Linked DNA regions of Homo sapiens: all the other regions are linked to region 4. The links come from fine-mapping of genetic effects on gene expression. A gene starts in region 4. Each other region holds a variant in brackets. All regions are shown on one strand. Distances are from middle to middle.

Region 1 (5,000 bases), 200 kb before region 4:
CTGTCACTACTAAAATACAAAAAATTAGCCGGGCATGATGGTGCATGCCTGTAGTCCCAGCTTCTTGGGAGGCTGAGGTGGGGGAATCGCTTGAACCTGGGAGGCAGAGATTGCAGCGAGCCGAGATCACGCCACTGCACTCCAGCCTGACGACAGAGTGAGACTCCGTCTCAAAAAAAAAAAAAAAGAAAGTTATATGATCTTGAATATAAAAAGTATGGTCTCTAAAGAATTTGTTGTTGTTTTTACATAATGTAGGAGGAAAAAAATTGTGGTGTTTATAAGCATCAGCCTGATTACCAAAAATACTTTTTGTGGTAGACTGGATTTTGAGAATGTTAAAACAATCTTCAAAAATTGAATATTAAATCCAAAAATAAGCAAGCCACAGCTAAATGAAAAAGTCATAGTACATAGGTGTAATACACTTTACTCAAGGGGTGTAATTCCAAAAAAAAAGTTTTTAAAAAAGGTAATTTGTCTCCTACTGGATATACTAAATACCTTAGTGAATTTTTTATTTTGAATAGCTCTTTGTTAATCTACATAATTGTTTATGAATTTAACTTGCTTTATAAGTTCAAATTATCCTATATGCTATACAACACACTAATGGTAATGATGAATAAGATCTACTAATTAGGCTTTCTTCTGGGCAATGCATGTGGGTATCTTAGATTGCTTAGTTAAAACATAATGAGTAAAGATGTCCTTAGATCAGGCCAAACACTTCATCTTCCCCCTGCACCTCCGTTTGATTAAATTTTTCGTAAATTTTGTTAGGGCTGCATGGCTTATTGGGAAGGGACCTCATCCCTACCCCAGGCATTGGTATCAATTTTCCTGAAGCTATGTGAAGTATTAAAAAACCATATTCAGGCCTGGCATGTTGGCTCACGCCTGTAATCTGAGCATTTAGAGAGACAGAGGCGGGCTGATCAGTTGAGGTCAGGAGTTTGAGACCAGCCAGGTTAACACGGTGAAACGCCTTTACTAAAAATACAAAAATTAGCTAGGCGTGGCGGCCCATACCTGTAATTCCAGCTACTCAGAAGGCTGAGGCAGGGGAATCGCTTGAAACCAGGAGGCAGAGGTTGCAGTGAGCCCAGATTGTGCCACTGCACTCTGTCTCAAAAAAAAAAAAAAAGCCATATTCATTATGACTTTTTAATTTTGTGACATGTATAAATACATTTTTTATTATCTACATAGTAAATTTAAAAAGCTGCATCAAACTGTAGCCGGTGAGGCTGCATAAATGATGTGGGACGAAGAGTTATAATAACTTGAGATCACTGTAGTGAAAAGAACGTGTATTTTAGATTAGACCTGAGATTGATAGATATCCTTACTAGGGGCTTGCGGGTAGGACACTTAAGGAAATTGGAGCTTGGAGTGAGCTTTGTAAAATAATACTAAAACCATCCTCCTAGTGGGGTTACTGTGTGACGTCCAAGAACTCGGGGGCAGTTGGCTTGCTGTCCTGTGCTCCGTTCTGACGACTGAGCCCGCCCAGGTCTGCAGGGTCCTGGGGTCCTGCGGGTTCTGTAGGGTTCCCTGGTGTGTGGAGTCCCTACCCGCTACAAGCTCCGTTGGGTCTACGGAGTGTGCGGGGATCTCCCAGCCCTGTTGGCTGTACGGGCTCAGTGGGGTTTGCAGGGATCCCCTCGTTCTGTGGGGTCCGTGGGCGCCGAGTCAGGGCCATGCCCCTGGGCTCCGCTCGCGGAGCCGGCGTCGCCCTTGTTGACTTTCAAAAGGCGCCGCCGGCCCCGCGCCCTACACGCTCAGCACGCCCTGCGCGGAGTTCCCCGCTCTGGCGCACTGGCCTTGGCTGGCGGGAGGGGGCCGGAGGGGCTGCCGGCGGAGCAGAGACACAGCCACCCTCCCCAACACACCATGAGGTGAGTCGGGGAGGGGCCTAGGTCTCCCACATGCTGTTGTGGGAAGCTCTGACCCCCGCTGTGCCTGGGGCGGGCTCACCCACGGAGGTGACTGTTAATACAGCGCTGAGTGCGAAGGAGACCCGAGAAAATGGGCCTATTCTGTCTAGTAACGTTTTACCTTCTGGTGAGGGTGTGGGGAGAGAAGCTTTGGCAGGGTCAGTGAGGCCCCGCAGCAGAGCCCTGGTGATGAAAGACACTTTTGTATGGTACCCGAAGGCTTAACTTCACTCCTGATTGTGAGTGGATTGTGTGTGGTAGTGGTGGAGCCCTTGCAGAACCGCCAGAGAGACGGTGCTAGTTGTGTGTGTGCCTATGTAAACCTACAATAGCTAAGGTCATCTTTTGAAATGTAGAACAGGGATTGCACATTGACTTTGCGCTTCAAGTATTTGCAGGTTATTACCTTAGTTTTTACTCCCTTTGTGCGTGCCGTGATTATCTTGGTTTAAACTCGTATGTGGCAAGAAATTTTTTAATGAATGTTTAAGTTTCTGTGAAAATTGTGTATTTCTCAAATTGTATTTTTTGGCTTTTAATAGGGTCACTTTGTTTTCTGGGTCTCTGTTTTGACTTACGGGAAATGCTATTTGTTTTCTCTACATTTTCTTCATTTAAAAAAAACCTGTAACTTCAGGAGTTCAAGACCAACCTGGGCAACCTCATCCCTGGAGGAGGGGGGAACCCCCACAAAACCACAACTATAACTGGCTGCTACTTAGGACTACAGGAGATCTTTTTTCCAAAGTGGAAATAGCTTTATTTCACCCAGATTATGTTTATTTAAAATTTCAGATAATATATAAAGCTGTAAAAAGTAAAGCAAAAACTACCTGTACTTGTCCCATCCAAAGATAACTTCATAGAATATTTGATTATCTACTGTGGTGCTAGGA[G/A]CTCTGTTGGACCCTGGGGACTTTGGTGAACAGACAATGCCTGCCTCTATAAACCTTACATTCTGCTGGGGAAAATAGACCTCTCCCAACCCACCAAAAAGTAAATTTATAATAATTCCATGTTCTAATGCTTTAAAGAAAACACTTGCAGCAGGGTAATCCGAGGTTTATCTGAGTGGATGACTTAAATAGATGTCACTAAAGGAACAGAAAGAGCTCAACCATGGGAGGAATGGGGAGAAAAAAAAAAGAATTCTGGTCAGAAATAACAGCATGCACAAAGGCCTTAAAAGAGGAAAAAGCTATAAAAAGAAAAATCCATGTAGCTGCCACTCAGTAGTAAGTCAGGGAAAAGTAGAGCAAGATGAGGTATAGGAAATTGGCAGGGACCAAATTTTACTTGTCCATGGCCAGGAGGGTGTGTTTTGTGTTCTGAGGGCAGTGAGAGGGTACTGAGGGGCTTTAATTAGAAATAAAGTGATCTGGAAAACTAATTGATTAATTTGTTAAGTAAATATTTATTGAAACCCTACTGTATAACAGGCACTGTTCTGAGCACTGGCATACAACAATGAAAAGGACAAAGCCCTGTATTCATGAAACTAATCTAGTGGTTGGAGGACAATCAGATAAACAAGAAAAAATACCAGATATTGATAAGTGTGCAGAAGATGACCATTGTTTAAATTGTGGTTTATATTCTTTAAGATATGGTATATTACACATATACTTCTTTTGGAACTTTCTCCTGAATAATTTATGGTAGGACATTTTTCACTGTTACTAAATAGTTTTCTTTGGGGGCATCTTAATTTGTTTTTGGATTAAGTATGGTAAAAAATAGCATGCATAAATGAAGAAATACTGTGCAGCAACAAAAATTTGCATGTTACAAAGCATCTGGTGAACGTTATATAGTAACTTCCTTTTGACAGTCTGACATGTGGCTCTCCTACCCCCATCCCAGACCCCAGCTGCCCCTTTGTGGTTTTTTATTTTGACCTATTAGTATGGTTAAATTTATGGATTTACTATTTATTGAACCATTTTTGCATCTTGGAATGAGCCCTAATTGATCTGTTATTATTTTAATGTCCTGATGGATTTACTTTGCCAATGCATATATTTAGGATTTTTATATCAATATTCATAAGAGATCAGTCTATAGTTGTTGTTTTTTAATGTGTTTTGTCTAGTTTTGGTATTCGCATCTGATTGCTTTGTAAAAACAATTGAGAAGTTTCATTTCTTTTTCTGAGTTTCGGAACAGATTAAATAGCCAAGTATTATTTATTCTTCAGTTACCAAATTCATATTTACTAAACACTATGTGCTAGGAATTGGACTGGATGCTGAGTAATCAGTAGTAAACAAAACAGATATGGTTCCTGCCGTGATATTGCTTGGCTCATTAAGGAAAATGACATTAATGAAGAAACTACACATATGTAATTATAAATCATGCAAGAAAAGGACAGGATGCTTTGAGATAATATCATTGAAGATCTTTAGATTGTGCTTTTTATGCATTTGAGTAAATGACTATTGAGTACATACATATACACTAACAGCTAATTATTTAAATTAGTATGTATTGATTTGGTGTGTAATTAGGGCTGTGGTGGGTGCATTAGTAAAATGAGGTCTTCATAATTACACAAAATATAAAATAATGGCAATAGTAGCTACCATTGTAGGAGGTAGCTGCATCATTTTTTAATGGTAGAAATTAAGACAGGTTAAGTAGACACTTTTAGTCTAACATGTTCAATTGTATACACTCTTTGGAAGTCTCTCTTAAGATTATAGTAAAAGAATAAGGATATAAATCCACAAAGATCAAGAGGAGGTGAGAGGAAGATATAGCTGAAATCAGTATTTGGGAAACTAGAAAGGAGATGGGCAAGTAATAAATGATTTCATGAATTAGAGAATGCTGAAAGCTGAAGAGAGGTAACCCAGCAAGGAGCAAGCAGATTCTTTCCACAGAATCTGGAAAAGTTTTAGGAATTGGGGGTATCAAGTACAGGACTTCTGAAGTCAAGAATTACAGGATGGGGTGGGAATAGAAGGGTTGGTTGATGGTCTTTATCATTTTGATACCCTGGAACCCCTTCTCCACTCCCACACACCCAGACAACTACTCTCTCCTCTACCTTGACGG
Region 2 (5,000 bases), 29 kb before region 4:
TTCAAGGGACAGGACGAGCCACAAGCTGGATTTTGTTCCTACGTCTTTTGCGTTCATTTACCTTTTAGCTAATCGTGGATTTTCAGCAACACTGGGAAAAATAAAGACCATGCATGTTGTAGGCTGGCACAGGTGGAAGCTCTAGAACTCTGAGAGCTGCTTTAAAGGTACCACATACTGTAATCTAAATAGAAACACCCTATCATATCCAAGGAATCTGTGCCATCCCACTCCCAGCATTGTAGTGAGTGCCTGTGTATGCCTGTATCTACTCACAAGAGCTCTTTTTTTTTAAAGGAGCTATAAAGGAGATTATTTCTGCTGTGCTGTAGTCTGTTTTTTTTTTTACTTGTAAATGTATAACCCAAATTTTGTCATTATTTGAAATTATGTGTAGAGCTAATTTACCCAATATAAAAATGACTCTTACAAATCAACAAGACAAAACAATGGTCAAAAGATGAAGCAAGAACTGGTTTCATTAATGGCCCCAATCAATGGCCTCTGTGTCCAGTCTGTGGGTTCTGCCCCCTACACTAATTCTGGGCATGACCATGCCTTGCTTTGGCCAATGGGATGGAAGCATCTACACAAACAGAGCGGAGACTGGAAAGCACATTTAAGTCTCTTTTCTCTCTTGAATCTCTGCCACTGTCATGAAAAATAAGCCTGGGCTAGCCGAATGGAGAGACCATGGGGAGCAGAGCCAGCTTGATCCACCCAAGGCCATCCTATACCAGCTCAGCAACTCACTGGCTGACGGGACGCAGGAGTGAGCCCAGTTGCGAGCAGCAAAGCCACCCAGATGCCCTACAGACTCCTGTTTCAACCCAGTGAGCTTTGGGGTGGTCTGTCATTTAGTAACAGCTAACTGATACAGGTAAAAATAGGAAAAAGGGCTATAATGGCCAAAAAAACAAATCTAAAGATCTTCAATCTGATTGAGAAATGCCAAGGCCGGGTGTGGTGGCTTATGCCTGTAATCCCAACACTTTTGGAGGCCAAGGTGAAAGGACTGCTTAAGGCCAGGAGTTCGAGACCAGCCTGGCCAACACAGTGAGACCCCCCTATAAAAGTGGAATCTCTACATAAATTTTAAAAATTAGCTGGGCGAGCTGGTGCGTGCTTGTGGTCCCAGCTGCTCAGGAGGCTGAGAAGGGAGGATTGCTTGAGCCTAGGAGGTCGAGGTTGCTTGAGCCTAGGAGGTCAAGGCTGCAGTGAGCTATGGTCACACCACTGCACTCCAGTCTGGGCAACAGAACAGGACCCTGTCTTTAAAAAAAAAAAAAAAAAGAAATGCAAAATTAAAATCATGAGATAGTACATCATGTTAGTGGCCATTAAAAGTGTGATACCGTGGCCAGGCGCAGTGGCTCACGCCTGTAATCCCAGCACTTTGGGAGGCCGAGGCTGGTGGATCACCTGAGGTCAGGAGTTTGAGACCAGCCTGGCCAACATGGTGAAACCCCATCTCTACTAAAATACAAAAATTAGCTGGAAGTGGTGGTGTGCGCCTATAATCCTAGCTACTTGGGAGGCTGAGGCAGGAGAATCGCTTGAACCCAGGTGATGGAGGTTGCAGTGAGCTGAGATTGTGCCACTGCACTCCAGCCTGGGCGAGAGTGAGACGCCGTCTCAAAAAAAAAAAAAAAGTGCGATACCACACAGCTTTGGTGATGGGTATGCCTGGGAAGGAATCTTGGCAAAAGCGATGTCTGTGGTGCTCAAGACCCATCCCAGCCTCCTGGGCATGTGAGCCCCACACTGCAGACACAGGGAAGTTACCAGCTACATGCCCCAGGCTCCCCTAGGTCCAGATTTTGAGATGTGAGTTGGATTCTGCTAATTGCTTGAGTTTCGGAAAGCAGAAGCGAAAGCCGTATTTCTGCTTCCACTGGCAAAGGCTGCAAGTGATTTTCTGTGGAGTGTTTTCTGATCATTTGGCCTCTCGACTGTAGCAGATGAAGACAGCAAGCTTCTGGAGTTGGAAGCGAAGGCAGCAGCTTCCTATACTGGCAAAGATTTTCCTGATTGAAAAGGCACTTCTTTTTGAGGCCTAGGTCTGAAGTACAGCCCTTGATATCGTCCCTGAAAGTTCAACGAGATTTGTTCTCGAGCCTTCCTGACAATTCTGCATACCATCAGGACCCCGTAACAAATCTTCTGCATAAGCTGGCTCCAATGAACGCTAGTCTCTGCTAACTGAACTGTAGCTGATACAGTTGGCAACCTAAAAAAATGGACAGATCCTTTGATCCGCTTCTAGGAATTTATCTTCCAGTCATTCCCATAAGGACACAAAGATGTGTCCGGCACTGCTGTTTATAATAACTTAAACAACCCCAGAATGTCCTAAAATGTCCAGAAAT[A/C]GGGAACAGCTTAGACAAATTGTGGCACATCTGAAAGATGGAATGTCAGAAAGAATGCAACATTATGCAAAGTTAAAAAGAATGAGGTAGATCTTTAAGAACTAATGAGAAAATGAAAATAACAAAACAAAAAGAACTAATGAGAAACAATGCACTCAGTTTAAAGTTGCAAGAGTGTTATATGATCCTATTTGGAATAATCTTTATTTGTACTGTCTGAATTATTTTTCCCCAGAAGCAAATATTTTAGAATATAAACTCATTAAAAATGAAATAAAGCGCATGAGTGTTACATCATATATAACCTTATTCAAATCCATGGGTAATTCCTTGAAGGCATACCATGTGCAGGAGCTGTGTGCAGCCTTCTGGGGTTTGTAAGGTGCGTAAGATACAGTAACTGACCCAGGCGGGGTGCGGTGGCTCACGCCTGTAATCCCAGCACTTTGGGAGGCTGAGACGGTTGGATCACCTGAGGTCAGGAGTTTGAGACCAGCCTGGCCAACATGATGAAACCCTGTCTCTACTAAAAATACAAAAATTAGCCGCGCACGGTGGTGGGAGCCTGTAATCCCAGCTACTTGGGAGGCTGAGGCAGAAAAATCACTTGAACCCAGGGGGCGGAGGTTGCAGTGAGCCGAGATCGTACCACTGCACTCCAGCCTGGGCGGCAGAGTGACTCTGACTCATAAAAAGAAATAGTAACTGACCTCCAGGGATGCATGACTCAGTGGCCTTGACTACCACTTATATAAATAGTTCTAACATAAGGCGAACCATGGGATAATTGCTACAAAGTGCAAAGCAGGAACAGGGGCGGAGAAATTAATTCTTGTGAACCTGGAAGACATCTGACGACTCTGCTGGGTGTGGATGAAGAGATTATGCCAAGAGCTAATTTTTATTAAATGCTTTTTCTATTCCTGGGTTCTTTGAGAATCATTGACATTTATTATTTACTACACATCAGACACGGTGTTAAGTGGCTTAGATGAAATGTCTTTTTTTTTTTTGGTTATCAGATAACCCTTTGTGAAAATATTTTCCTTTGCATTCTTTAACTAGCTGGGCATTCCACAGCTTCACTGTTGGTATCATCTGTGATACTATCAACATGGCAGCTCACAGACTGGGCAGGCCCCAGGAATTCTTTTTTTTTTTTTTTTTTTTTGGAGACGGAGTCTTGCTCTGTTGCCCAGGCTGGAGTGCAGTGGCGCATATTCGGCTCACTGCAAGCTCTGCCTCCAGGGTTCACAGCATTCTCCTGCCTCAGCCTCCTGAGTAGCTGGGACTACAGGCGCCCACCACCATGCCTGGCTAATTTTTTTGTATTTTTAGTAAGAGACGGGGTTTCACCACGTTAGCCAGGATGGTCTCGATCTCCTGACCTCATGATCCTCCCGCCTCGGCCTCCCAAAGTGCTGGGATTACAGGCATGAGCCACCGCAACCGGCCCCCAGGAATTCTTTAATGGTTCCAGAGAGTTCTCTGGCTAAAGACTGCTGCTGCATCTGTTAGGCAATGTTGACAATCTCATCAGAAGTGGTGCTACCACTGTGTTTCATGTTTTTGTGTTTCTTTCTTTCTGTCGGTGGTTCCTGAGGGTTGTGACGATCAGGGCAGAGGCAGAAGGCACCACCTCAATCTGGGCCTGTCTGCTGTGGCTGGTCAGTTTCACTATCATCCTCAGACTCTTCCAGTCAATGGTTGGTGATGTCATCAGCAACCATTTTTGGAGACAGACCCAGGGAGCTGACCTTGGGGGCCAGTGCAGATGTGGCACTGACTTCACCACTGGTACACCTCAGATATACAACTTTGATCTCGCTGGGGTCAAACGTAGGTGGCTGCGGTTGGTTGAACTCAGGTTCAGGATGACTGAAGCAAGTTGCACTTGGCTTTCTCTGAGCCGAAAAACGAAAGGTGCTCAGGCTCCCAGCAACTCTGTGAAGAAAGAGTTATTATCATCTCAGTTTACAGATGAAACAGAAGCTCAGAGAGGGCAAGCAGCTAGCACAAGGTCCCACAGCTGGACTCAGGGCTGCTGGCTACAGGGCCTGGCTCTACATGCTGCACAGTCAGAGAGGGAGAGTCCCATGCGCAGTTGGAAGGGAGAAGGGAAGGGGAGGCTGGCGCTAGATAGTAACAAGCTGTGTGTTTTGGGCATTTCCCCTGTACCAGACACTGTGCTAAATGACCCTTCTGCTCTGTTTGCCTGGAAAAGTCCCCATCTTAGTGAATTCTGACTTTCCACCTACTGTCCCGGAGCAGCTGACTGTGGTGGAGAAAACTGCAGGACAGGGACCCTCAGCTGCTGCTATACAGCCAGTGATCCTGCCACGTCCCTGACTCCATGGGCTTTCAACACGAGGCCTCCCCAACGCAGTGTCCACACCAGCATTACTGTGGAACTTGGGAGACATGCAGATCCCACAGGAGAGGGAAGGGGGAGCTGCTCTCAATTCAGATCAAGTTTCCCCTGTGCCAGAAGAATCAGTCCTCCAGATGGGTGGGCAGCACTGGGCCTGAGGTGAATGTTACTGTGCTGTACGCTCACAAAGTTAGAGGGCAGAGCTCATATTAAAGGTTCATACTGAGAGGTGAAGCCAGCTGGACTTCCTGGGTCAAATG
Region 3 (5,000 bases), 44 kb after region 4:
ACACTTGAATCTTTTCTCATACACTGAAATCTTGGTTCCTAATAGTATTTATTACTTATTGATACTATTCTATGTATTTAAAAATAATATTCAAAATAATGCCAGTATTAATGGAATACTGACTGGACTTGAAGATTTCCTAACAGCTCCATTTCTCCATGAATGATGTATTTATTAGTCAAAATATCATGTTCTGAAGTCACTTAAAGTAAGTCCTTTTTGCTTTTGTGGTTTTATTACCAACTTAATTTGCAGTTAGACATGTAGTTTATTCATAATACCTACAGGGGTTGCTTTGCTTCTTTTTGATTTAATGATCTTTCTTGATGTGTAAGGCCTGTTAATGTTTTCAAAGTCAAAACCTTGCGCCTGGGCACAGTGGCTCACCCCTGTAATCCCAGCACTTTGCGGGGCTGAGGCAGACAGGTCACTTTAAGTCAGGAGTTAGAGATCAGCCTGGCCAACATGGCAAAACCCTGTCTCTACCAAAAAATACAGAAAAATTAGCTAGTCATGGTGGTGCATACCTGTAGCCCCAGCTACTTAGGAGGCTGAGGTGGGAGAATCGCGTGAACCCAGGAGGCGGAGATTGCAGTGAGCTGAGATTGTGCCACTGCACTCCAGCCTGGGTGACAGAGTGAGACCCTGTCTCAAAAGAAAAGATCAAAACTTTGTGATAAGAGAAGTCTCATTACCTCCCTGTTCACTTCAGACTGTTCTCTGCCTCCACCATTGGTAGTTATTTTAAACAATTAGCGATTAATCCTTCAGTATTTCTTTATGCAAGTATTAGCAAATTCGTAGGTATTTTCATATTCTCCTTTTCCACAGAAGGTAGCATTTCAGATACACTGTTGTGTACTTTGCTTTGTCACTTAGAAGCCATGGGAATCACTCTTTTATTTATTTTTTACTCTTTTATTTTTTGCCCTTTTATTCTTTTATTTGTTGTCCTACCCAAATTAGGAAATCCCTCTTTATCAGCTCACAGAGCTCTCTCGCCTCTTGGTCAGCTGCATAGTGTTCTGTGTTGACGCACTGTGATTTATGCCGTTCTCGCTCATGGACGTGGTCACTTCCAGCCTTTTGCTTTCATTAATAATGCTGCATTGCACAATCTTGTGCACAGGTCATTTCTGTTTTTGCCAGTGCATCTTCAGCATGCATTTCTAGAAGTGGAATTGCTGGGTAAAGATAAATGCAAGTGTGACTTTTCTGTTGTTTTGTTTTGTTTTGTTTTTGAGACAAGGCCTGGCTCTGTCACCCAGGCTGGAATATGGCGGCACAATCTTGGCCCACTGCAACCTCCGCCTCCCAGGCTCAAGCCATCCTCCCACCTCAGCCTCCCGAGCAGCTGGGACTACAGGTGTGTGCCACCACACCTGGCTAATTCTGTATTTTTTGTAGAGACGGGGTTTTGTCTGTTTCCCAGGCTGGTCTCAAACTCATGAGCTCAAGTGATCTGCCCTGCCTTAGCCTCCCAAAGTGCTAGGATTACAGGCATGAGCCACTGCACCTGGCCAAGTGTGACTTTTCTAGATGTTGCCAATTTTTTCATGGAGATTGTTATCACTTTAGAGTCCCACCAGTTGTATGCATAAGAGTGAAATAGGCCCGGCGCAGTAGCTCACACCTGTAATCCCAGTACTTTGGGAGGCCTAGGAGGGCGGATCACTTGATGTCAGGAGTTCAAGACCAGCCTGGCTAACATGGTGAAACCCTGTCTCTACTAAAAATACAAAAATTAGCTGGGTGTAGTGGCGTATGCCTGTAATCCCAGCTACTCAGGAGGCTGAGGCAGGAGAATCACTTGAATCCGGGAGGCAGAGGTTGCAGTAGGCTGAAATCGTGCCACTGCACTCCAGTGTGGGCAACAAAGTGAGACTCTGTCTCAAAACAAACAAACAAAAAAGTGAAGTAGACTTTTTAAAGCTGATTGGAAGGTTGTCAGTTGGTTGCTGCATGCATTTTGTTTTCCCCATAGAAGAAAAGAATACAGAATCTAGAGAAATACTTCCCCATTACTGAGACTGGGGTGGGCTGTCTGCCCTCAGGGGTCCTGCGAGGAAGTCCCAGAAAAACTGCCTATTTGTGGGAACAGATTTTTTAAGGCTGTAAGACCTTGTTAGAAGTGGAGGCACTCTGCTGTTTTTTTTTTTTTTTTAAAAAACAGAGTCTCACTCTGTCGCCCAGGCTGGAGGGCAGTGGTGTGATCTTGGCTCACCGCAACCTCGGCCTCCTGGGTTCAAGCTGTTCTCCTGTGTCAGCCTCTCAAGTAGCTGGTAGTACAGGTGTACACCACCATACCTGGCTAATTTTTTTTGGTATTTTTTTTTTGTTAAAGACGAGGTTTCACCATGTTGGCCAGGCTGGTCTCAAACTCCTGACTTGAAGTGATCCACTCGCCTCGGCCTCCCAAAGTGTTGGGATTATAGGCGTGAGCCACCATGTCCAGCCTTTTTTGTTGTTGTTGATCACAGCCTGTGAATAAATTTGGGGATATCCTGTTTCAGAAGTGTCGA[G/A]TCCAGTCTCTGCCCAGGAGGGAAGGCCATGGGGATAATGAAGATCCCGAGTTGGGCAGTAATTCAGAGGCTAGGAAAGCGTGTTAAAAATAGTGGAGCCACGGACGGGGGTGTTTTGGAGATAAAAAGCGAGCCATTGCTTCCTGCGCTGCCTAGAACGATAAGCCCCTTTATCTCCCAAGAGTAGGGCAACCTTCTTTTTCTTTGACCCCTCCCCCTTAGAAAATATAGCTAATAGAATCACCAGAAGCCATTTTGTTCATTTGTTTCTTTAAGTTTTGGGAAAGTGAAGGAAATTATTACATTGTTGAGGTGTTAAGTGACATGAAGTTATGTTTCAAAGACAGGTTTTTTTTTTTGTTTTTTTTTTTTTTTGAGATGGAGTCTCTCTCTGTAGCCCAGGCTGGAGTGCAGTGGTGCCATCTTGCTCGGCTCACCGCAACCTCCACCTCCCGGGCTCAAGCGATTCTCAGGCCTCAGCCTCAGAGTAGCTGGGATTACAGGCGTGTGCTACCATGCCTGGCTAATTTTTGTATTTTTAGTAGAGATGGGGTTTCACCCATATTGACTGGGCTGGTCTCAAACTCCTGACCTCAAGTGATCCGTTTGCCTTGGCCTCCCAAATTGCTGAGATTACAGGCTTGAGCCACTATGTCTGGCCAAAGACAGCTTCTTGGTCTCACAGAATCTTAGATTCTTTTTGTTTATTTGTTTAGATACAGGGTCTTGCTTTGTTGCCCAGGCTGGAGTGCAGTGGCACGATCTCAACTCACTGCAACCTCAGCCTCCCGAGTAGCTGAGACTACAGGTGTGCACCACTATGCCTAGCTAATTTTTGTATTTTTGGTAGAGACAGGGTTTCGCCATGTTGCCCAGGCTGGTCTCGAACTCCTGGGCTCAAGTGATCCTCCCACTTCAGTCTCCCAAAGTGCTGGGACTACAGGTGTGACCCCCACCCCTTAAATTTATATAAATAAAAACAGTTAATCTGGTGGGTTATGAGAGGCTTAAAAAGAGTTAAATGGCATAAAATCTAAAGAAATCAGAGAACACTGCATGTTAGGTTAAGTCATGTTTTGTGAAACTTTTCTTCCATGTGTGTTTCTTACATATGTGCGTATGTATAGCATTATAATGGTAACTGCGTCAAAAACGGCTTGAGAGCCTAGCCCTGGAGAAACTTCTGGAGTGGACAGGGAGTCAGGTACAGGATGTTCATTGCTGCATTGTTGGAAATAGTTTGGAAACAACCGAGTAACCACAGCAAGGGAATGGGTAAATGAAATACAAGAGAGCGCTGTGACTGAGTCCTCTACAGCATTTTAGAAAACCTAGGTGAGGAGGAAGCCAGAAGCGTAACATTCATGTAAATTAGACATCTATAAAAGGAGACCTGTGTCCTTGGACACGTGTAAACGAGAAGCTATTTCACCGTGGGTTGGAGGGACCTCGCCAGGTTCATGGTCTTGGCTGTCTCTCGGGAAGGAAATTGAGATGACAGTCCAAGGGACTTCAGCAAAATCTGTGACTTCAGACAGGATTTCACCTCGTCAGCTGTTAGTACTTGTTGGCCATAACTGGAGTGTTTGCCTGGTGGTTTTCTGTTCTTTTTCATAGCTGGTAGGCAGGCCGTCTAAGAGAAAAGACCAAATAAATCAAAACGTAGGTTACAGATTGTAGAATAAGTAGATCAATAGCTGGTCATAATCCAGAAAATACGAAACCGTCCTTTCCTGGGCAGCAGATGTGTGCGGTCCTGCTAGCATATCAGTCTGTGATGTGGAGCCCCACAGGGCAGCAGCGAAGCTGACAGTGCCCTGTCCTTGTGGTGTTTCCAGCCTGGGAGGTCACTAGTGCTTCCTCTGGGTGCTCCCTGCGTGCCAGGCGTGAGTGCTTTGCATGCATTGAAGGGTTTCTTCTCCTCAGCAGCCACCTGAAGCAGGCACCGTGCCATCTGCATTTATGGATAAAGACACAGGCTTAGCGAGGCTGTCATTTGCTCACTAGCACAGCCAGCAGCACGGGACGGTGGAAATACGCAGGGATGTTTGGGGCAAGTTTTCTTCATGTCCTCTGTGTTGCCTGCCTGGCTTATAATGTGAATACACAATAGTTTTCTGAAGATTGAGCTGGGGATACCTTAGCATAAAATAAAATCCAGAAATATTCTGGAAATGTCATTACAGGCAATAGTTTTGCATGTTTATCTGTTAAATATATATATATTTAAAAAGCAATTGGACTGTCAGTTGGACTGTCGATAGCTTTGGAGGCAGGGAAAAGTTAGAGGAAGTAAGGGAGAACGGGTTAGGCGGGGTTTTTCTCTCTGGGACTTACAGTGCATCTAAAGGGTTCTCACAGAGCCGCCGCTATCAGTGTTTCCAGTAGACCCTAACGGAGGTGTCGCCATGACTCTCTTTCTCGCTCTTTCTTTCTCAGGAGTACTTCTTGCAAGCAGAGCTGACAAGCAACGTCTTA
Region 4 (5,000 bases):
ACAGCATGCTAGCCAAGTTATGTTAACTTTAGAAATTGATTATATGCCAAAAGGCCCCTAGATGCTTTTTTTTTTTTTTTGAGATGGAGTTTTGCTCTTGTTGCCCAGGCTGTAGTGTAATGTAGTGCAATCTTGGCTTAGTACAACCTCTGCCTCCTGGGTTCAAGCCATTCTCCTGCCTCAGACTCTGGAGCTCCCCAGTAGCTGGGATTACAAGCAGCCGCCACCACGCCCGGCTAATTTTTTGTATTTTTAGTAGAGACGGCGTTTCACCATGTTGGCCAGGCTGGTCTTGAACGCCTGACCTCAGGTGATCCACCCGCCTCCGGCCTCCCAAAGTGCTGGGATTACAGGCGTGAGCCACTGCACCCGCGCCCCCGCCCCCACCCCCTCCCCCCCAGATGTTCTTATTCTCTGCCTTCTGTTTTCCAAAATCCTCCTTTCCCCTGAAGGTGACCTGAACAAGATGCGGTTGGGCAGTGCTGGGTGAAGCAGCCACATGTGTGTACTGCTCACCTGCAGAGCTGTAGGCTGTACCTGCAGTATGCAGAGGAGTCCTTCTAATTTTGCTCTCTGTCTTCCAGGCACCTGGGCAAACAGTGAGCAGGTACTGGAGGATCAGAGGGTCGCCTTCTCGACTGGCAATGTGGAAACTGTTCCAGCCATCTTTGTTCTTCAGGAGTGGATTGGCGCCATGTTCCACCAGCTCCTGGATCACCCCCAGGTTCTTCCTTGTGCAGGCCATCATCAGAGGAGTCCTAAGGCCAACCAGGAGAAGCTGTCAGATGGAGGCAGCTGAGACATTAGAAGCCAGGGGCCAGGTCTTCAAAACACACACATCCTTGGCACAGATGGAAAACCTAGAGGATTCAGGGGTCTGGCAGGCAGGAAAACAGCTTTGACCGGCAACCTCTGTGCCTTCTGTGAGGACCCTGGGAGAAATAATAAGGGGAAAATGATTGTAACGAACGTGTACCTAGAGGAGAGGGTGCCTGGGAGACAAAGCAGCTTATAAGCTAGTTCACAGGATAGCAGTGAATTGGAGCAGAGCTAAGAAAACCCACAGACAACCCTCAACACATAACGAAGTCTATTCCCCTGCCCCAGTGGGGAAGATGTACTTCCCTATGTTCCTAAAGATGTTCACGCCCTCTAACGAACCTGACCTAGTGAGTACTAAAATCAGTGTCAATCTAACAAACGAAATGCAATTGGCTTGTGTGATGGTGGAGCAGAGTATCTCTGACTGTGGTGGTTATGCAAGGCTGCACGTATGTGATACAACTGCACTGTGCTCTACACACACGAGCGCGTGTATAACTCAGGAATTCTGGATATTGATTGGAGCAATGCCACTTGAAACAATGCATTGGTGCAGAAGTAACTTAGCTAAATGTCCCCAGAACATCGCATCCGGAGGCTATCTGTATAGTGCACACACTTCATTGTTTGGTAACATTCTCTTTGGTTATATTCTACACTATTCCGTGCTCTAGAAAGGGAGGTGACTGCCCCGACCAGTTAACCCACAAGGGCAGGAACGAGGGACTCTGCAGGTCATCTGCGTTATAAGGGAAAGTTGGGCAGGAGGTCCCTGCCGCTGAGCAGGCCTGGGGTGAGAACTAGGAGCTGAGAACAGCTACGGTGTCCAAGGGGACGGAGAAGCACAGGGAACTCGCTACGACTCTGCGAGTAGAGGGGAGGCGGGGTGTCTTTCCGCTCCACACCTACCAGTCGGCCTTCTTCAGGCAGTCGACCGCTGCCCCCCGGCCCAGCAGGTAGCGCACGCAGTCTCGGTGGCCCATGGAGGCCGCCTCGTGCAGAGGCCGCTTGTAGTCTCGGTTGGTGGCCTCGATGTCCATGCCCCAGGCCTCGGCCAGATAGGCCAGCACGTCCCGATGCCCGTGGCGCGCGGCGCAGTGCAGGAGGGTATCCCCGGCCGGCCCCGGGCAGCCCCCGGCCGCCTGCAGCTCCTCCTTCAGGGCGCGCAGCCGGCCCTCCTGCACCAGCCTGCAGAGGCGCCGCGGGTCCCCGGGCTGGGCCATCGCCGCGGGTCGGGCCGGGCTGCGCGGGGAGGCGGCGGGCGGGACACCGGCGGCCGGGCAGGGAGAAGCCGAGGGCGAGTGGGACTTTCCGCCTCTTCACGCAACCTGCCCCGCGCGCCCCGAACCCGGCAGAACCGCCCCTCACGCCCCCGGCTTTGTCCCCGGCAGAGCCGCCTCCTCAAACCCCCGGCCTAGTCCGCAGGCGGGCTGCCCCCTCACAGCCCCGGCCTGCCCCGCGTGGGAGAAGCCGCGGTTCCGGGCACGGGGCGGTTTTTCCTCAGGGACGGAGCGGTCCGGGATGAGCACGGAGGGGCCTGGGGATCCGAGAGCGCTGGCGTCCGCCGTCCTGGAGCTGCAGCGGCCCGTACGTGATTCGGGACTGAACACGTAAGGGAGTGGGGCGCGCCGCTACACCGCAAAGCCCCAAAGTGGAGGGTCCGGGAGGGCGCGCACAGCCTCGCCCGGCGCCGTGCAGGGTGGCTCCTGAGGCAGCCAGGCCCAAGCGTGACCTGCCCCGCACGCGTCCTCAGGGCCGCCCCAGCCTCCAGCCCCTGGGGGCCGGCGTTCCTGGGCTCCGCCCCCGTCCCCGCCCCTCGACCGCCGCTGCTCCGCGGGGACTCGGGGAGCTCGAAGGAACTCTGGGAAAGTTTCCCGCTCCGCCCCGGCCCGAGCGGAAGCGCGGATGGGGCGTGGCCCGGTAGCTGTGGCCGCGCCCCCACCGATTGCGCATTTCGATTGGCGTTAGTGGCCGTCCGTCAGCACGCCCCCTCCGGTCTCGCGTCCCGATTGGTCGCGGGGGCCGTCAGTCCGGCTCCGGCGGCGGGCGCTTCCCGGGGCTGCGGCGGGGCGGAGCTCGCGGAGGAAGTCGGCGGGCGTCTCGGGCTCCAGGTCCCGGCCAGAGGAGGAGCTCGCTGCCGGGGGACGCTGGGCTGAGCGGCCGGCGGCGCGGGCCCGGCGGCGGCGGCAGCGGGGTCCGGGTCCGGAGCGCCACAGTGCGTGAGGCCGCAGACGTGGCAGGGAGTGTGGGAGGGGCTCCGCCGTGTGGAAAACTTAACCTCCGGGGTCCTGCGCGGGGGGTCCGGGCCCGGGGTGGGGCAGCGGGGGCCCCGGGGGCGCGAGGCTGGGCTCGGGCAAGCGCGGGCGTGGGGGCTCGGCCGTCCGGGCCGTGGGCAGGTGGAGGGCGCGGCGGGGGTGCGCGGGGGAGGCCAGGGCGCTCACTGAACTCGGTCGGGAGCGGCCCCCGCGCTGCCCCCCGAGGCCAGGAAGGCGCAGCGTGTGGGTCCTCGGGGCTGAAGGGGCAAGCGCGGGGACGTGGCCTCGGCTGCTAGGAGGCCAGGCTTTCCCGTCTACTCTGACGTTTTGACCTTGGGCAAGTCATTTTTCGCTGCCCTCTGCCCCTGTGTCATCGGTAGCTTCTCTGCCCCTCCTCTGAGCATGGGAAGCCTAAGGCGATGTGGGAGGCCTGGCGCTGGTGGAGGGCACGGCGAGAGCTGGGCAGGCTGTGGGTGATGGAAGAGATCAGTAGGTGTTGGGTTCCTTACCCGATCTGATTAGGTGCCAGTCACTTAACCTCTCCATGTTTTCGATTCCTTTAGGGAGTAGAATGGGAGTAGCTCCTATTTGCCAGGCCTAAAAACGAGTGCCGTTTACATTTTTTATTGCAGTCTGTGGTCCGAAGACAACCCTATGAGGCATCAGTAGGGTTTTACAGGTGGGGAAGTGGAGGCCTAACCAAGTCAGTGACTTTCTTACAGAATTACAGGTAATAAAGTCTTCTGGAAGGCAGGATGGTAGCATGTGTTGAGTGTCCGCCAGCGTCTGCCGCTGTGGTAAAATGAGCGGAGATAAATGAAAAGACTTCTGGAATGGGCCCATGAAGATAAGTCCGTTTTACTCATGAGCAGATTGAGTTTGGTTAAGGTAACAGTGATGTGGATAGCCTCTGGAGACAGAACTAGTCCAAGTACCAGCTTTGCTCAGGTTATTGTTCTGTCGTGCCTTGTCACTCCAGCAAAAGAAAAAAAGGAAGGCATAAAAGTTGTTTGAAATGCACAAAAGTGTAGGGCGTGCCAAGCAGTGTTCTGCTGCCGTTGAAGTTAGTGCAAATTGGAAGTTGAGGCATCTGGTAGCTTCATGCTTTTTGCTTTTACCCCTGCCCCTCTCCCAGTTTCAGATGACTATCTTCTCTTGCATTATGTCTCTAGTTTCCCTGTTTTTTAAACATAATTGGGACACACGGGTTCACAGTAGGTTGGAATATATATATATATTTTGAGACAGAGTCTCGCTCTGTTGCTCCGGGTGGAGTGCAGTGGCACGATCTCGGCTCACTGCAACCTCCCCCTCCCGGGTTCAAGCAATTCTCCTGCCTCAGCCTCCCGAGTAGCTGGGATTACAGGCGTGTGCCACCATGCTCGGCTAATTTTTTTGTATTTTTAGTAGAGACGGGGTTTCACCATGTTGGCCAGGCTGGTCTTTAAACTCCTGGCCTCAAGTAATTCACCCAGCTCGGCCTCCCAAATGCTGGGATTACAGGCGTGAGCCACCGTGCCTAGCCAGGTTGGAATATTTGAACCCAGGATAATTGGTTACTTCATTGGTGTTGCACATTCGATTCTGCCTCTTGTGTCTTCTCTATGAACCTTCTTTGCTCTGTATCCCCCTTTGGATAACTAAATGATAATGTATGTGAATCTGTCCCGCAGCTCCTGTGATTTTCTGGGCAAAAGCTTGGTCTAGAGGGGCGGGATCTGAACAGTAAGCTAATGGATGGAGCTGTTTCCTGGGTCTTGCTGTTTTCCGGTTGGGCTGCTCATTTCTTTCGTGCAGACTTTTGGAGGTTGTGGTCTGGCCTTTACAGTCACGTCACATGTAGTCGTCATTGGCACCGACTTGCTCCTTGGCTGCCCTTCCTTTTCCTCCTGTTTTTCATGGGTATGCTGTTGAGCATGCCCA
Region 5 (5,000 bases), 25 kb after region 4:
TTAAGGGCCTGAAGATGGGAATGAATTTGGGACATGTGAGGAAGAGAAAAAGTGCAGTGTGGCAAGGGTGGGAGGGAACACAAGATTGTGAAGGATGGACAGGGACAGTTGAGGGATCTTACAGGCCCCGATTAGAAGGTAGAATAAGGCCAGGCTTGGTGGCTCACACCTGTAATCCAGCACTTTGGGAGGCGAGGCGGGCAGTTCGCTTGAGGCCAGGAGCTGGAGACCAGCCTGGCCAACAAGGGGAAACCCCATCTCTATTAAAAATACAAAAATTAGCCAGAAATTTCTGGTGGTGCGTGTCTCTAATCCCAGCTACTCGGGAAGCTGAGGCATGAAAATTACTTGAACCCAGGAGGCAGAGGCTGCAGTGAGCCGAGATATGCCACTGTACTCCAGCCTGGGCAACAGAGTGAGGCTCTGTCTAAAAAAAAAAAAAAAATGTAGAATAAAACTCAGGGTTTGCTGGGCAGCTGGGAAGGGCCTTGTCCCTGAGCTGGAGTGATGGGGACAGGTAGATCAACTGTGCAGCCATCCTGGAGAAGCAGAGACCGTGGGGGCTGGGGGCCGGGGGAGGGGGGTCCCTTCCCCAGGGAGACTGGCCCCTGGAAGTTGCAAGCCCTTAAAGGAAGGTGGCTAGTGGCACCAGGGGAGTGAGTGGTGGCCAGGCATCGGTGGCAAGGTACCAGGAGGGGACAGGATTCCCCAGAAATGTCCAAGAGTTTGCTGATGGCTGCCTTCTTGCCGCATCCCCACAGGGTGGAGAGAACACTGGCGTCTCCTCTTAGGAGGACCCCAATTCTTGTGTATCAGGGCCCTGCCCTTGTACTCTCACCTAACATTAACTACTTCCTTATTCCACACACCACATTGGGGTAGCGCTTCAACACAGGAATTTCAAGGGACACACTTCAGTCCATGGCAGTATGTATGTTGATTTTTGTTGCGTTTCTTTGTTTCTTCCTGTTTTTTCTGGGAGATAATATAATCACATCTGAAATGTTGGATTATTAAAGGTATTTGTTGCATTGGAGAGGTCGAGGCTTGGAGATGGGCTCTTTTCGCTCTGGGGATGGGGGGCAGTGCACTCGATTGTTGGGGGAGCGAGTCCAAGCTCACCCCCGGTCTCCCCCACAGTCCAGGGGAGACTTGGAGAGGCTTTGGAACGGCGTGTGCCAGCTGAGTCTGACGAGTCTGACGATGTCCTGTGCCTCTGCTGATTGAACTTTGTCATCTTTGGTCCCTCTTGGTGACTTGGAGCCTACTGTTTTCAGGTCCTTAGTAGTCAGATCTTGTTATCCATAGTGTAGTCCCTTTTCTTGGGACCTTAAAAGATAGAATGTGTTCATGCGTCTAAAGCAATGTCATGTCATAAGAGGTAGACAGTGGAGCGACCGAGGCTCAGAAAGAGGCTGGTGTTTTATCCACAGGTGTAGTAAGTATCATTCAAACAAGAGTCTCAGTGCTAGGAGCAGTGTTTCCCTTTGCCTTCCACTGGTCCTTACAGTTTTTCAGGTTGTTTGTCTCTTCAAGTCACAGCTGGCGCCCCTCATTCCCTGAAGAGCCCGTCCTGGTCTCTTCCTCCTCTTGGAGATATACATAGAAACTACACCTTTCCCAGGACTGTGTTATCTGAGAATGCTTTGCCAGCCATAGATATATTTAAATCCTTTTCTTTCTTTTTTCCATTAAATGGTGGTAGGTATTTTCTTTTTAGAAATGGGAAGGAGTTTAAATCCATCTGAGGAAAAATAAGATGCAGATTGTGACTTGAATTTGAGACTTTCTAAATCTACTTTTTTTTCTGGTAGGATTCACTACAACATTTTCTATTGCCTATATCTTCAGGAGAATTCCTGCACTCAGGCCACAAAAGTTAAAGAGGAGCCATCTGTCTGGCCAGGGTATGTGTATATGTGCGTCAGCGTGTGTTTTGTCTTCTGTCGACTCTTCCTCATACTTAAGGAGGGAGATGTTTTGCTTCACTTTAGCAACATCATTGAGGTTAATAATGTAAATTGTGTAAAACTCACCCATCCTAAGAGTGTGATTCAGTGACATTGCCTGAGCTGTGCATCAGCATCATAATCTAGCTTTAGAACATGTTTATTCTCGTAAGGGGAGGCCTTTTTTTTGGTCAGCTTTTGTTTATCCAGTTTGTATGTTTGGTTTTTGGACTGTCTATCCCCTGGACTTTTCACGTCTTTCTGTTTTTCTTACTTCTCTTTTGTAATGATTATAGCAAGAAAACCATCCAACTTACACATGAACAACAGCTGATTCTGAATCACAAGATGGAACCTCTCCAGGTGGTGAAAATTATGGCCTTTGCCGGTAAGGGAGCCCACATCAGGTTCACGAGGTGGTGGTTTTCTGCCTTTTCTCCCTACATCCCCTTCCCGCTACCTGCCAGGGCATCTTTGCTCTGATCTGTCATCCAACTAATAATTCAATAACAGATCAAATAATCAATCTC[A/G]AAAGCAATTGGCCAAGGAATACTTACTTCCCCGGACCACTCCATGAACATCCACAGAATTCCTGTTGAGACAGGTAGTTCACAGCAGTTAGTTGGTCGGGCAGATGCCCCCGGGATTGAGCCCAGCATTGTGATGTTTGCTCAGGCACTGATTGCTTCTGGAGAGGGAGGGCATGTTAATCCCCAGCCCAGGGTTTCAGGAGCTCCCCAGTTTTATAGGGTGATGTCTAGAGGGCCTGCCTTAGATTGGCTTTTAACTTACATTCATAAATATATTATCTACAAGTGTCCTGCCTCAGTCAGCCACGCCGATCCACTCACAGCCTCCTGAAGTACTTGGTTACTCTTTCATCACAGCCTTTGCTCGTGCTATTTGCTATTTTTTTTCTGCCTGTAATCCCTTCCTGCTCCTTTTGTGGCTAAATACCCTGCTAACAACAACAACAACATTTTGAATGCCTGCAGTGTGCTTGGCATTGTGCTGATCCTGATAGCATTCCGTAAGGTTGCTTAGTTATTCTTGTTTTATAGAGGAAGAAACTGAAGCACAGAGAGCCTTGCCCGGGGTTGAATAAGTGGATAGGTGGTGGAGGTGGAATTCAAAGCTGGACCTGTCTCTCTCCAGAGACATGCCTTCCCCCTCCCTAACCCTACCCTCCTATCCTGAGGGGTCCTTTTTGCCCTCGGGAACCCTACCTCTAATGGATACCCACTTATTTCTGAGAAGCAAACTGAAGCTCATGAGGTCAAGGGGTCCACCTGTCCTTTGCCCCTCGGCTGGAGCCTGCCCCAGCTGAGATCCCAGCCCACCTTCACCTGGCTTTGAATCTGCTGCTCTTTTGGTGGCACTACTTTTACCAGCACTGAAAAACTTGTTACTGTCCTGCTCTCAAGACAGAGGTGTGATAAGCCTGGACAAGGCCTGATTGGGGATCCCTGGGCATGTCTTGTCTGGTCAGAGGGTCACCTCCTTTCCTCCTGGCTTCCCCAGGCACTGGGAAGACCTCAACGCTGGTCAAGTATGCAGAGAAGTGGTCTCAGAGCAGGTTTCTGTATGTGACATTCAACAAGAGCATCGCAAAGCAGGCCGAACGCGTCTTCCCCAGCAACGTCATCTGCAAAACCTTCCACTCCATGGCCTACGGGCACATAGGGCGGAAGTGAGTACTGCTGTCACTAGTGGCACTGTTGCTGCTGGCACGGTCGCGTCTTACTGTTTTCCCGTGACGATCACATGTGAGCTTACACCACAGTGACCCCGAGGAGTGTAGTGCTGTTATCTCCACTTACAGGCAGGAAACAAATACATAGGTTTAGCCATTTGTACTTTTATCCTGTAGCAACATATTGTTTACATATAATGCCGTCTTGCCAAGAGGGGTGTTCTCATGGAAGTGAGGCACAGAAAGTCAAAATGACTTGCTTAAAGTTCAGAGTCTCACAAATCCTGATCAGTTGTAGGCTTTTCTTGGAAGGGAGTGAGGAAGACTCAGCCGAGGCACACTTGACCCAGGTCTCCTGGATGTAGAGGCATCAGGGAACTCCAAGGGTCCCTCCGGGGACCTTCTGGAGCCCAGCTTCATGGTGGAATAGCAGTGTCTGCCGAAAGCTGGTTCCTATTCTGGGTTGGTACATGTGAGTCCTGAAAGCCATTTCCAGTCAGACATGGACCATGCAGAACTTTTTCGCTTTAAAACATTAACACTCGCCTGTGTGTGGCACTTGAAGCTACCTCCTGGTGACATTAGAGAGAATGGAGGGGACGTTCAATAGCACCAAGCCAGGAGAGCCACGTGCTGTTCATTTGGGATGGGTATTGCAGGTACCAGTCAAAGAAGAAGTTGAATCTCTTCAAGTTAACACCCTTCATGGTCAACTCCGTCCTTGCTGAAGGGAAGGGTGGATTCATAAGAGCCAAGCTTGTGTGTAAGACTCTAGAAAACTTCTTTGCCTCGGCTGACGAAGAGCTGACCATTGATCACGTGCCTATTTGGTGTAAGAACAGCCAAGGACAGAGAGTCATGGTTGAGCAGAGTGAAAAACTGGTGAGTGTCTAAGTGTCTGAAGTGTTAGGGATCTGAGGATGGGGGAACAGGGGAAGTGTTAGGGATCTGAGGATGGGGAAACAGGGGAAGTGTTAGGGGTCTGAGGATGGGGAAACAGGGGAAGTGTTAGGGGTCTGAGGATGGGGAAACGGGAAGTGTTAGGGATCTGAGGATGGGGAAATGGGAAGTGTTAGGGGTCTGAGGATGGGGGATCAGGGGAAGTGTTAGGGATCTGAGGATGGGGGAACGGGAAGTGTTAGGGATCTGAGGATGGGCAAACAGGGAGTGTGGGACAGCATTATTTCTTCTTTCATTTCTTCAGACCTGGTCATAGGAGGTTGAAGGTGGGAGGGTGAGGCTGTAGGCCCATGGTGATGGCTGTGAATTGTTGGGTATTTTCTCCTGTGAAGGACACTGGTGACCATCTCACTTAAGCCTCGGAATAGTCCTCCCATTTAACAGAGAAGGCAGACATG

Which allele goes with the higher level. Alleles are on the strand shown, and positions count from the first base shown. SD is a standard deviation of normalised expression in the study named. Not every link is listed here.
As copies of A replace G in region 3, the expression in lymphoblastoid cells of the gene that starts at base 2,584 in region 4 goes up (large effect, 1.4 SD a copy in GTEx).

The links.
Region 1: its variant is fine-mapped to the expression of ANKRD16 in prefrontal cortex (BrainSeq, PIP 0.95).
Region 2: its variant is fine-mapped to the expression of ANKRD16 in whole blood (INTERVAL, PIP 0.91).
Region 3: its variant is fine-mapped to the expression of ANKRD16 in lymphoblastoid cells (GTEx, PIP above 0.99).
Region 5: its variant is fine-mapped to the expression of ANKRD16 in whole blood (INTERVAL, PIP 0.98). The same link has a PIP of 0.9 or more in prefrontal cortex.

The regions. Positions count from the first base shown.
Region 1 is chr10:5,691,018-5,696,017 of GRCh38, forward strand. The region is part of intron 1 of TASOR2 (transcription activation suppressor family member 2); the gene reads left to right. Among named protein-coding and RNA genes, the nearest start is that of TASOR2, 8.7 kb to the left of the region's middle. RefSeq lists a silencer at 1,647-1,876. The variant G/A (reference allele first, on the strand shown) is at 2,837.
Region 2 is chr10:5,858,379-5,863,378 of GRCh38, forward strand. ANKRD16 (ankyrin repeat domain 16) reads right to left here. Exons shown (of 8, transcript NM_019046.3): 8 at 3,238-4,313. It also overlaps the pseudogene RPL12P28. Among named protein-coding and RNA genes, the nearest start is that of TRV-TAC3-1, 7.1 kb to the left of the region's middle. RefSeq lists enhancers at 4,059-4,108, 4,409-4,478, 4,679-4,808. The variant A/C (reference allele first, on the strand shown) is at 2,370.
Region 3 is chr10:5,931,495-5,936,494 of GRCh38, forward strand. It overlaps FBH1 (F-box DNA helicase 1), which reads left to right. Exons shown (of 21, transcript NM_178150.3): 20 at 4,962-5,000. Among named protein-coding and RNA genes, the nearest start is that of IL15RA, 44 kb to the right of the region's middle. The variant G/A (reference allele first, on the strand shown) is at 2,523.
Region 4 is chr10:5,887,310-5,892,309 of GRCh38, forward strand. ANKRD16 (ankyrin repeat domain 16) reads right to left here and starts at 2,584. Exons shown (of 8, transcript NM_019046.3): 1 at 1,732-2,584; 2 at 538-758. The coding sequence starts at 2,045. FBH1 (F-box DNA helicase 1) reads left to right here and starts at 2,934. Exons shown (of 21, transcript NM_178150.3): 1 at 2,934-3,037. The coding sequence starts at 3,037. RefSeq lists silencers at 1,867-2,146, 2,157-2,266, 2,407-3,126, 3,317-3,366.
Region 5 is chr10:5,911,933-5,916,932 of GRCh38, forward strand. It overlaps FBH1 (F-box DNA helicase 1), which reads left to right. Exons shown (of 21, transcript NM_178150.3): 7 at 1,815-1,907; 8 at 2,246-2,337; 9 at 3,471-3,639; 10 at 4,302-4,524. Among named protein-coding and RNA genes, the nearest start is that of FBH1, 24 kb to the left of the region's middle. RefSeq lists an enhancer at 4,959-5,000. The variant A/G (reference allele first, on the strand shown) is at 2,480.